Regions from separate parts of the Homo sapiens genome. Here regions 2 and 3 are each linked to region 1. The links come from fine-mapping of genetic effects on gene expression. A gene starts in region 1. Each other region holds a variant in brackets. All regions are shown on one strand. Distances are between the middles of the regions.

Region 1 (2,761 bases):
AAAGTGTTGGGATTACAGCCATGAGCCACCACGCTGGTCCTCATTACATTCTCAAAGGGGCCTATTGAAAAAAAAAAAAAAAAAAAAAAAAAAGGCCGGGCACAGTGGCTCACGCCTGTAATCCCAGCACTTTGGGAGGCCGAGGAAGGCGGATCACAAGGTCAGGAGATGGAGACCATCCTGGCCAATATGGTGAAACCCTGTCTCTACCAAAGTACAAAAAAAAAAATTAGCCAGGCATGGTGGTGCGTGCCTGTAATCCCAGCTATTCAGGAGGCTGAGGCAGTAGAACTGCTTGAACCTGGGATGCAGAGGTTGCAGTGAGCCAAGATTGCACCGCTGCACTCCAGCCTAAGCAACAAGAGTCAAACTCCGTCTCAAAAAAAAAAAAAAAAAAAAAAAAAAAAAAGATGAGACTGTTGAGTCAGGATTAGGATCCAGGTCTGCTGGCACCAATTTCAGTGCTCTTTATACTTTCTGTTGCTATTCATTCATTCATCCATTCATTCAGCAAATTTATATCAAGTATCTGGTATGTGCCAGGTATGATTCCAAATTACACCATTCCCAGATTATTCTGAGAATGCTGCAGTGCCAAACTCTTGGTATCACAGACTTTATATTCTAGTGGGGGAGACAGACAAAATAATAATATAACGACGAAGGTGCAATGTTATGTGCTATGAGAAAACGCAGTCGGAGGATGGCGAGGAAGGGGAACGGAATTTTAGATAGGGCGGTCTGGGATCAGAACCTCCAGATGCCCGTCCATGGACTCCAACGAAGGGAGCGATTCCAGGTACCAGGGCACCCTGCACAAACCTCTCTTGAGCTTCCGCCTCGCCCAGGTGGGGACGGTAGGGAGACCGGAGGGCACACGCATGCGCACGAAGGAAACGGTAAAGCCTGAAGGGAGGTGCAGAGCGCATGCTCTCTCTTGCCCGAGATGCCGAGGATTTTGACAAGGACTCCGTCGTCCCGGATGATAGTGCTCAGGTTAATGCCAGTGGGAGGGCGGCGCCCAATAGTAACTTCCTTTGGAGGTTGTAGTACCGCCCCCAGAGCCAATTTTCCACTTCCGCTTCCGGCGCTGCGGCAGTCCAGATCAAAAATGGCGGTAGTTGGTGTGTCCTCGGTTTCTCGGCTGCTGGGTCGGTCCCGCCCACAGCTGGGGCGGCCTATGTCGAGTGGCGCCCATGGCGAAGAGGGCTCAGGTACTGGGGCCGGGGTCGACGGGTCGAGCCTCAGCCCCACTCGGGCGAGACAGGGAGGGACTGTGACCTTGGCCCGAGGCCTTGCGGGAGGGAAAGTGAGACCCGGGCCCGCCCCATACCGGCGCTGAACGTTTGTGGCTTCTCCGCAGCTCGCATGTGGAAGACTCTCACCTTCTTCGTCGCGCTCCCCGGGGTGGCAGTCAGCATGCTGAATGTGTACCTGAAGTCGCACCACGGAGAGCACGAGAGACCCGAGTTCATCGCCTACCCCCATCTCCGCATCAGGACCAAGGTACGCCCTTGTACATCTCTTCAAGCGTCCGTTCTCTTTTCGTTATGTGTGCCTTAGTGCAAGTTCTTCATTCTCTGAAGGCATGGGTGCCAGGCGTGTACAGCTTGTTTATCCTCACAAACAGAAAATGTATTTTCTTCCATTTTGTGGATGGACAGCTGACACTTGGGATTACGTCTCAATTCTCTTCTTCAAGGTCATACAATAAGTGCTCTTCAGTTTCCCTTTTCTCCGATTCATCCTACCTCCTGCCTTCTGAGACAGTTCTTTTTTTTTTTTTTTTTTTTTTTTTTACTTCTGAGACAGTTCTGAAACAGGTGTCCGTTGTGTAAAGCCTGGAGGTTTGGGAAATCCAATTAGAGTGGCAAAGTCTGAAGGTGGTTCGCGTAAGCGAACCCAGCAGCTACATGGGAGGCTGAAGCAGGAGAATCCCTTGAACCTAGGAGGCGGAGTTTGCAGGGAGCTGAGATCGTGCCACTGCACTCCGGCCTGGGCAACAGAGCGAGACTCTGGTCTCAAAACAAAACAAAACAGCAACAACAAAACATGGGCATCTGGCAGCTACTAGTTGCATAATGAAGAGACTGACAGCTTTCTCTATTCCCCACCAATACCTTTTCTCGACTGTTTTATCATTGGTTGTTGATGTAGATATATTACAATGTTGTGTCCTCTGTTGTTTGCTGTATCTTTAACAAGGGCTTATTCTGATTCTTCAATACTGGCCATGCGCGGTGGCTCACGCCTGTAATCCCAGCACTTTGGGAGGCCAAGGTGGGTGGATCGCCGGAGGTCAGGAGTTCAAGACCAGCCTCGTCAACATGGCGAAACACTATCTCTACTAAAAGTACAAAAAGTAGCCGGGCGTGGTGGCGGGCGCCTGTAATCCCAGCTACTCGGGAGGCTGCGGTGGGAGAATCTAGGAGGTTGAACCCAGGAGGAGGAGGTTGCAGTGAGCCAAGATCCAGCCATTGCACTGCAGCCTGGGCAACAGGAGTGAAACTCCGTCTCAAAAAAAAATAGTAATAATATACTTGATCTTAGCCAAAAGGCCGAGAAGTGATGAAAAAAGTTATTATTATTATTATTATTATTACATCACCTAGCCCATATAGGACTGGCCTTGTAGAAACTTAACCTAGACTCTTGAATTTGTTGAGTCTTTGAGCGGCACTCCCATCCTTGTACAATGCAATTAGAAGCCAAACAGTAAAGGTTTCTCAGCCTCAGCACTGTTGACATTTGGGGCTGGGTA
Region 2 (2,761 bases), 260 kb before region 1:
AGCTTGCACTGAGCCGAGATTGCGCCTCACTGCACTCCAGCCTAGGCGACAGAGCGAGACTCCGTCTCAAAAAAAAAAAAAAGAAAAAGAAAAAGCAAGCAAGCAGATATGCTTGTGGAAAGCAATGCTGATAAATTCCATTTGCATGTATACAAAATGGCATATGTACAAGGTTATTCTTTGCAGAACTGTTAGTAACAATAAAAAACCGTAAGCAACAGAGGACTCCCTATATATAGCATAGTATAGAAAGGATTACTGGCTGGGCGTGGTGACTCACACCTATAAACCCAGCACTTTGGAAGACCGCAGCAGGTGGTTCCCTTGAGCCCAGGAGTTCGAGACCAACCCGGGCAACAAAAGAAAACCCCATCTCTAAAAAAATACAAAAATCAGCCAGGCATACACCAGCATGCCTGTAGTCCCAGCTACTCAGGAGGCTGTGACAGAAGGATCGCTTGAGCCCAGGAGGTCAAGGCTGCAGTGAGCTGAGATCATGCCACTGTGCTCCAGCCTGGGTGACAGAGCAAGATCTTTGTCTCAAAAAAAAAAAAAAAAAAAAAGAAGTCTGCAGAATCATGGTGTGTGTATAAAAAAATTTTTTAATACATTTTTTTAAAAGTAGGCTGGGCACGACCAGGTGCAGTGGCTCATGCCTGTAATCCCAGCACTTTGGGAGGCCGAGGCGGGCGGATCACCTGAGGTCAGGAGTTCGAGACCAGCCTGACCAACATAGAGAAACCCCGTCTCTAGTAAAAATACAAAACTAGTCGGGCATGGTGGCACATGCCTGTAATCCCAGCCACTTGGGAGGCTGAGGCAGGAGAATCGCTTGAATCCAGGAGGCAGAGGTTGCGGTGAGCCGAGATCGCGCCATTGCACTCCAGCCTATGCAACAAGAGTAAAACTCCGTCTCAAAAAAAAAAAAAAAAAAAAAAGTAGGCTGGGCACAATGGCTCATACCTGTAATCCCTGCACTTTGGGAGGCTGAGACAGACGGATCACCTGAGGTCAGGAGTTTGAGACTAGCCTGGCCAACATGGTGAAACCCCATCTCTACTAAAAATACAAAAATTAGCCAGGTGTGGTGGCATGCACATATAGTCCCAGTTATACTCAGGAAGCTGAGGGTTGAGAATTGCTTGAGCCTGGGAGGCAGAGGTTGCAGTGAGCCGAGATTGCGCCACTGCATTCCAACCTGAGTGACAGAATTACACTCTGTCTCTCAAAGAAAACAAAAAAAAAAAAACAAAAAAAACCACTCAGTGCAGATAAGCCAATGAGCTTGCCCCTTCTTACAAGGAGGCTTTTGGTAACAATGACACCCATTCCCTGAAGCAAATCCAAGAGAGTCCCAGCTCACAATACGTAATCCTTGACCCTCAAGGTTTCAGCATTCTAATCCATCATCAATCAATTATACTGACAGCCATTCCATGTTTGTCCCCAGAGGTGCGCTGGATAAGCTCCCAGGGATGCAGCCCTCTATCTAACCAGCAGGCTGCTTCATGGAGCGGTACTTGTGTTTCCTAAGGCCGGTCATCACTGGCA[C/T]CTACCTGCCTGGGACTCTCCAGTTTCCACAGTCATCTCAACCCTCAACGAAACCTGGCTTTGCGACAACTCTTTGAGGTGGACAGGGTGAGTAGTATTTTCTTTCCCACTTTGCAAATGAGGAAATGGGCTCAGAAGTTAAGTGACTCAGCCAAGTCTCATGGACAAGAATCAGATCCAAGGCCTGGCAAAGTGGCTCACACCTATAATCCCAACACTTTGGGAGGCCAAGGCAGGCGGATCATCTGAGGTCAGGAGCTCAAGGCCAGCCTGGCCACCATGGAAAAACCCTGTCTCCACTAAAAATACAAAAGAATTAGCCAGGTGTGGTGGCAGGCACCTGTAATCCCAGCCACTCGGGAGGCTGAGGCAAGAGAAACGCTTGAACCCAGGAGGCAGAGGTTGCAGTGAGCCAACACCACTGCACTCCAGCCTGAGCAACAGAGCAAGACTCCGTCTCAAAAAAAAAAAAAAAAAACTACTCCTCATGACCTACACTAAAAAACCACTCCTCATGACCTACACTAAGCCTACCCAGGCACATGTCTGCTCTGCTCACCTCCCAACCTGGTGAGCAGACATGGGGAAAGAAAAAGAAGAGAATATGGAAGGAGCAGGTAGAGAATGGAAAGAGGGAATTTAAGAACCAAAACCAAGACAAAAAATCCATTCCATTCACCAGTTCAACACTGAAATCAAACACAGGGAATGGAATGATCAGCCAGAAAAACACCAAGAGGATTTACACTATGATATTTTCTAGTCTACTTGATTTTTGGCTGTCTTCCCAACTCTGGCCTGTCACGGCTTCCACACATGCCATGAAATCAGGGGCCTCATTTCTGTTGTGCATCACTGCATTTCTAGTGCCTAGCACCATGCCTGACAGAGAAGCTCCAAAATGTCTAATACACCAAACAATGTGATTATGCTGCACTCATGGCCATCCACCAAAGCCACACACCTCGGGACAACTCAGAGTGTCTGGTCACCCAGCACCCAGAAAAGCACTTGGCACCAAGAAGGTGCTGAAACATGCTCTAACTCCTGGCAGAAAGCTGACCCTTGCTACTTCAGAGACACAGGGAACCTACCAGTTTGTTCCAGATGTCTCCTTGTCGCTTGGCTCTCGATGGAAAGACAATGCGCACCAGGAGGCAGGTCCAGGTCAAGGCCAGCAAGGCGGCAGAGCCACTGCTCTTACTGCAGA
Region 3 (2,761 bases), 270 kb before region 1:
AACACAAGAAAACCTCCGAGACAGCACCAATTACCCAATCAGCTATAATTACAGCTCATGTCGTAGCTCCACAGCCATTACTGCTCTGTCTCCACACATCTCCCAAGTCCCATTTCCCTAACCTTATGTTCCCTACAGGAATGAATTTATTCCCACAACAGCTAAGCTGTTGGCCAGATCACTCTGGCCCAGGTTTTTGCAGACCTGACTGGTTGGTCAAGAAAGGGTCCTCTCTGAAGATTTTCCAAAGAGACTTTGCCTCAATCCCGAGTTCAACTAAGCATGGAGTAACTTACCATCCTCTGAAGCCATGACCAGGAATTTCTCAGAAGTGAAAACCTGCTTTTTCTCATCCACAATCAACTGCCAGAAACTGCTCAGTTTGGCCTCTGCAAGAAACAAAAGGTTACCCCACGACGCAGCTCACCACATCCCCCAGAGCTGATCTACTCCATCCTGAAGCTGCTGGGGTGGGCTTTGCTGACAAACCCTCCTCTGCAGCAGGAGGCTCAGTGCTCTTCCATTTGGGGAACTGACCTCAGTCCTTCTGGTATCACCTCCTGTACGAAACTCTTCGGTGGCTCTCTGCTGCCTACAGGATCCTAGGTGAACTGCTTCTCATCCGGAATTCCCATCCACCCCAGGCGCCAAGCTGGAATACCTGAGGTTTACAGACTCTGGCTTTCCCTGCCCTTCCCTGACTGGGGCTGTTTGGACTCACACTGGGCCATCCCTTCAGGATAATGAAATCCTTCAGAGGCTTCAGGGTACCAGTTCAAATGCTTCCTCCATGAAGCCCTTCCCAATACCCACCCCCCCAACTAAAAGCAATCTCTCCTTCAAAACTGCTCTAATGCCGCATTTTGTCTTAAGCTACGGATATATTTCTGTATTTCCTCGCGCCTACTGTGAAGTAAGCACCCTGAAATTTGCTGAAGAAGGTCATGTTCATCTTAGCATTCCCCCAGGTAGCCCAGTGCCTTGCATGGCCACAGTGAGCACACGATATTACATGAGGAGAGCTGAGCTCCATTCCTAACCAAAGGAGTTAAGTTCAGGTGTGTCCCAG[T/C]GCAGAGATTGGGAGATGAAATAAAGAAAGCCTGGCCGGGCGCAGTGGCTCACGCCTGTAATCCCAGCACATTGGGAGGCTGAGGTGGGTGGATCACAAGGTGAGGAGATTGAGACCATCCTGGCTAACACGATGAAACCCTGTCTCTACTAAAAATATAAAAAATTAGCCGCGCGTGGCGGCGTAGCGCCTGTAGTCCCAGCCACTCGGAAGGCTGAGGCAGGAGGCGGAGCTTGCAGTGAGTCGAGATCGCGCCACTGCACTCCAGCCTGGGCGACAGAGCGAAACTCCGTCTCAAAAAAAAAAAAAAAAAAAGAAAAAAAAAAAAGAAAAGAAAGCCTGAAATACGATGTAGCCACAAAAAATAATGAGAAAGCTCTTTCTGATGTACTGATTTGGAATCATTTCGAAGATATATTATATATAGTATATATATTATATATTATAAGTAATATGGCATATAGCGTATGTTCCCCAGCATGTTCAATTACATAACACACTATGTCTGGACATAAAATTGGTAATACTGTTTTTTCTTTCTTAGACAAAGTCTCACTGTGCCACCCAGGCTGGAGTGCAGTGGAGCAATCCCAGCTCACTGCAACCTACGCCTCCTGGGTTCAAGCGATTCTCCTGCCTCAGCCTCCCGAGTAGCTGAGATTACAGGCATGCGCCACCACACCCAGCTAATTTTTGTACTTTTAGTAAAGACGGGGTTTCACCATGTTGGCCAGAATGGTCTCGAAATCTTGACTTCGTGATCCGCCTGCCTCGGCCTCCCAAAGTGCAAAATTGGTAACACCGTTTACAGAGGGAAACTTAACGGCTACGGGAAAAGACAGGGCTAAGGGGAAGCTTCTCATGTTATATCCTTTTGAATTTTGTACTGTATGAATGTATAACCAACTGAAACAAACAGTCCCAATACTAAACCCTGGTCCATCTAGGTATCATCTACAAGCCTGTGTAGCACTGGAGCAACAGAATGAAGGAGGACAGTGACACAGTCCCCTGACTGCATTCCCACTGCCCATGCAACCATGAGGTTCATCCTGCAGATGACAAGCAAACCTGTGGCTGATCCAGTGTGGTCAGGACCAAGCTAATCCTGAACATCAAGACACACCTCCCAAGGACTCTTGTCAGAGGCCCCTGTCTCTACCATCCTAGACACCTCTGGACTCATACCAGCCTGTGAGTCAGCCACTGACAACTTTAAGAGCAACAAGGCTGCGGCAACCCCTTCAGTGATGGTGGGAACCTGAGTGCTTTGGGAGGCTGCCTTCTCCACTGTCTGGATGAGCAAGGGCAGTAAGTCCAGGGCCTGCAACAGCGTGTCACCTGTGGAGAGAGGACAAGCACCTTAAAGGACATCCTGATCCTTGGAAATGACAGGACTGAGAAAGGATTTATCTAACCAGCTGTGAACCAGACGACTAAAACCCTTCAGTTAATTTTTCAAATATCTCAAAAAGAAGTGAAGTGAAATCAAAACTTAAATCAAACTCTACAGCCACAAAATTAGAGGGAGAAAGATAATCCTTATGGCCAGGTGCGGTAGCTCACGTCTGTAATCCCAGCACTTTGGGAGGCCGAGGCGGGTGGATCACCTGAGGCTGGGAGTTCGAGATCAGCCTGACCAACATGGAGAAACCCCGTCTCTATTAAAAATACAAAATTAGCTGGGCGTGG

Evidence for each region. PIP is the estimated chance that this variant, and not a neighbour inherited with it, causes the effect.
Region 2: its variant is fine-mapped to the expression of COX6A1 in whole blood (INTERVAL, PIP above 0.99).
Region 3: its variant is fine-mapped to the expression of COX6A1 in whole blood (TOPMed, PIP above 0.99).

Annotation. Positions count from the first base shown.
Region 1 is chr12:120,437,016-120,439,776 of GRCh38, forward strand. COX6A1 (cytochrome c oxidase subunit 6A1) reads left to right here and starts at 1,098. Exons shown (of 3, transcript NM_004373.4): 1 at 1,098-1,214; 2 at 1,364-1,506. The coding sequence starts at 1,112. It also overlaps the pseudogene LOC124903126. RefSeq lists enhancers at 1,135-1,344, 1,271-1,792.
Region 2 is chr12:120,180,924-120,183,684 of GRCh38, forward strand. GCN1 (GCN1 activator of EIF2AK4) reads right to left here. Exons shown (of 58, transcript NM_006836.2): 5 at 2,646-2,754. Among named protein-coding and RNA genes, the nearest start is that of GCN1, 12 kb to the right of the region's middle. The variant C/T (reference allele first, on the strand shown) is at 1,552.
Region 3 is chr12:120,167,912-120,170,672 of GRCh38, forward strand. GCN1 (GCN1 activator of EIF2AK4) reads right to left here. Exons shown (of 58, transcript NM_006836.2): 15 at 2,258-2,410; 16 at 297-389. Among named protein-coding and RNA genes, the nearest start is that of MIR4498, 14 kb to the left of the region's middle. The variant T/C (reference allele first, on the strand shown) is at 1,070.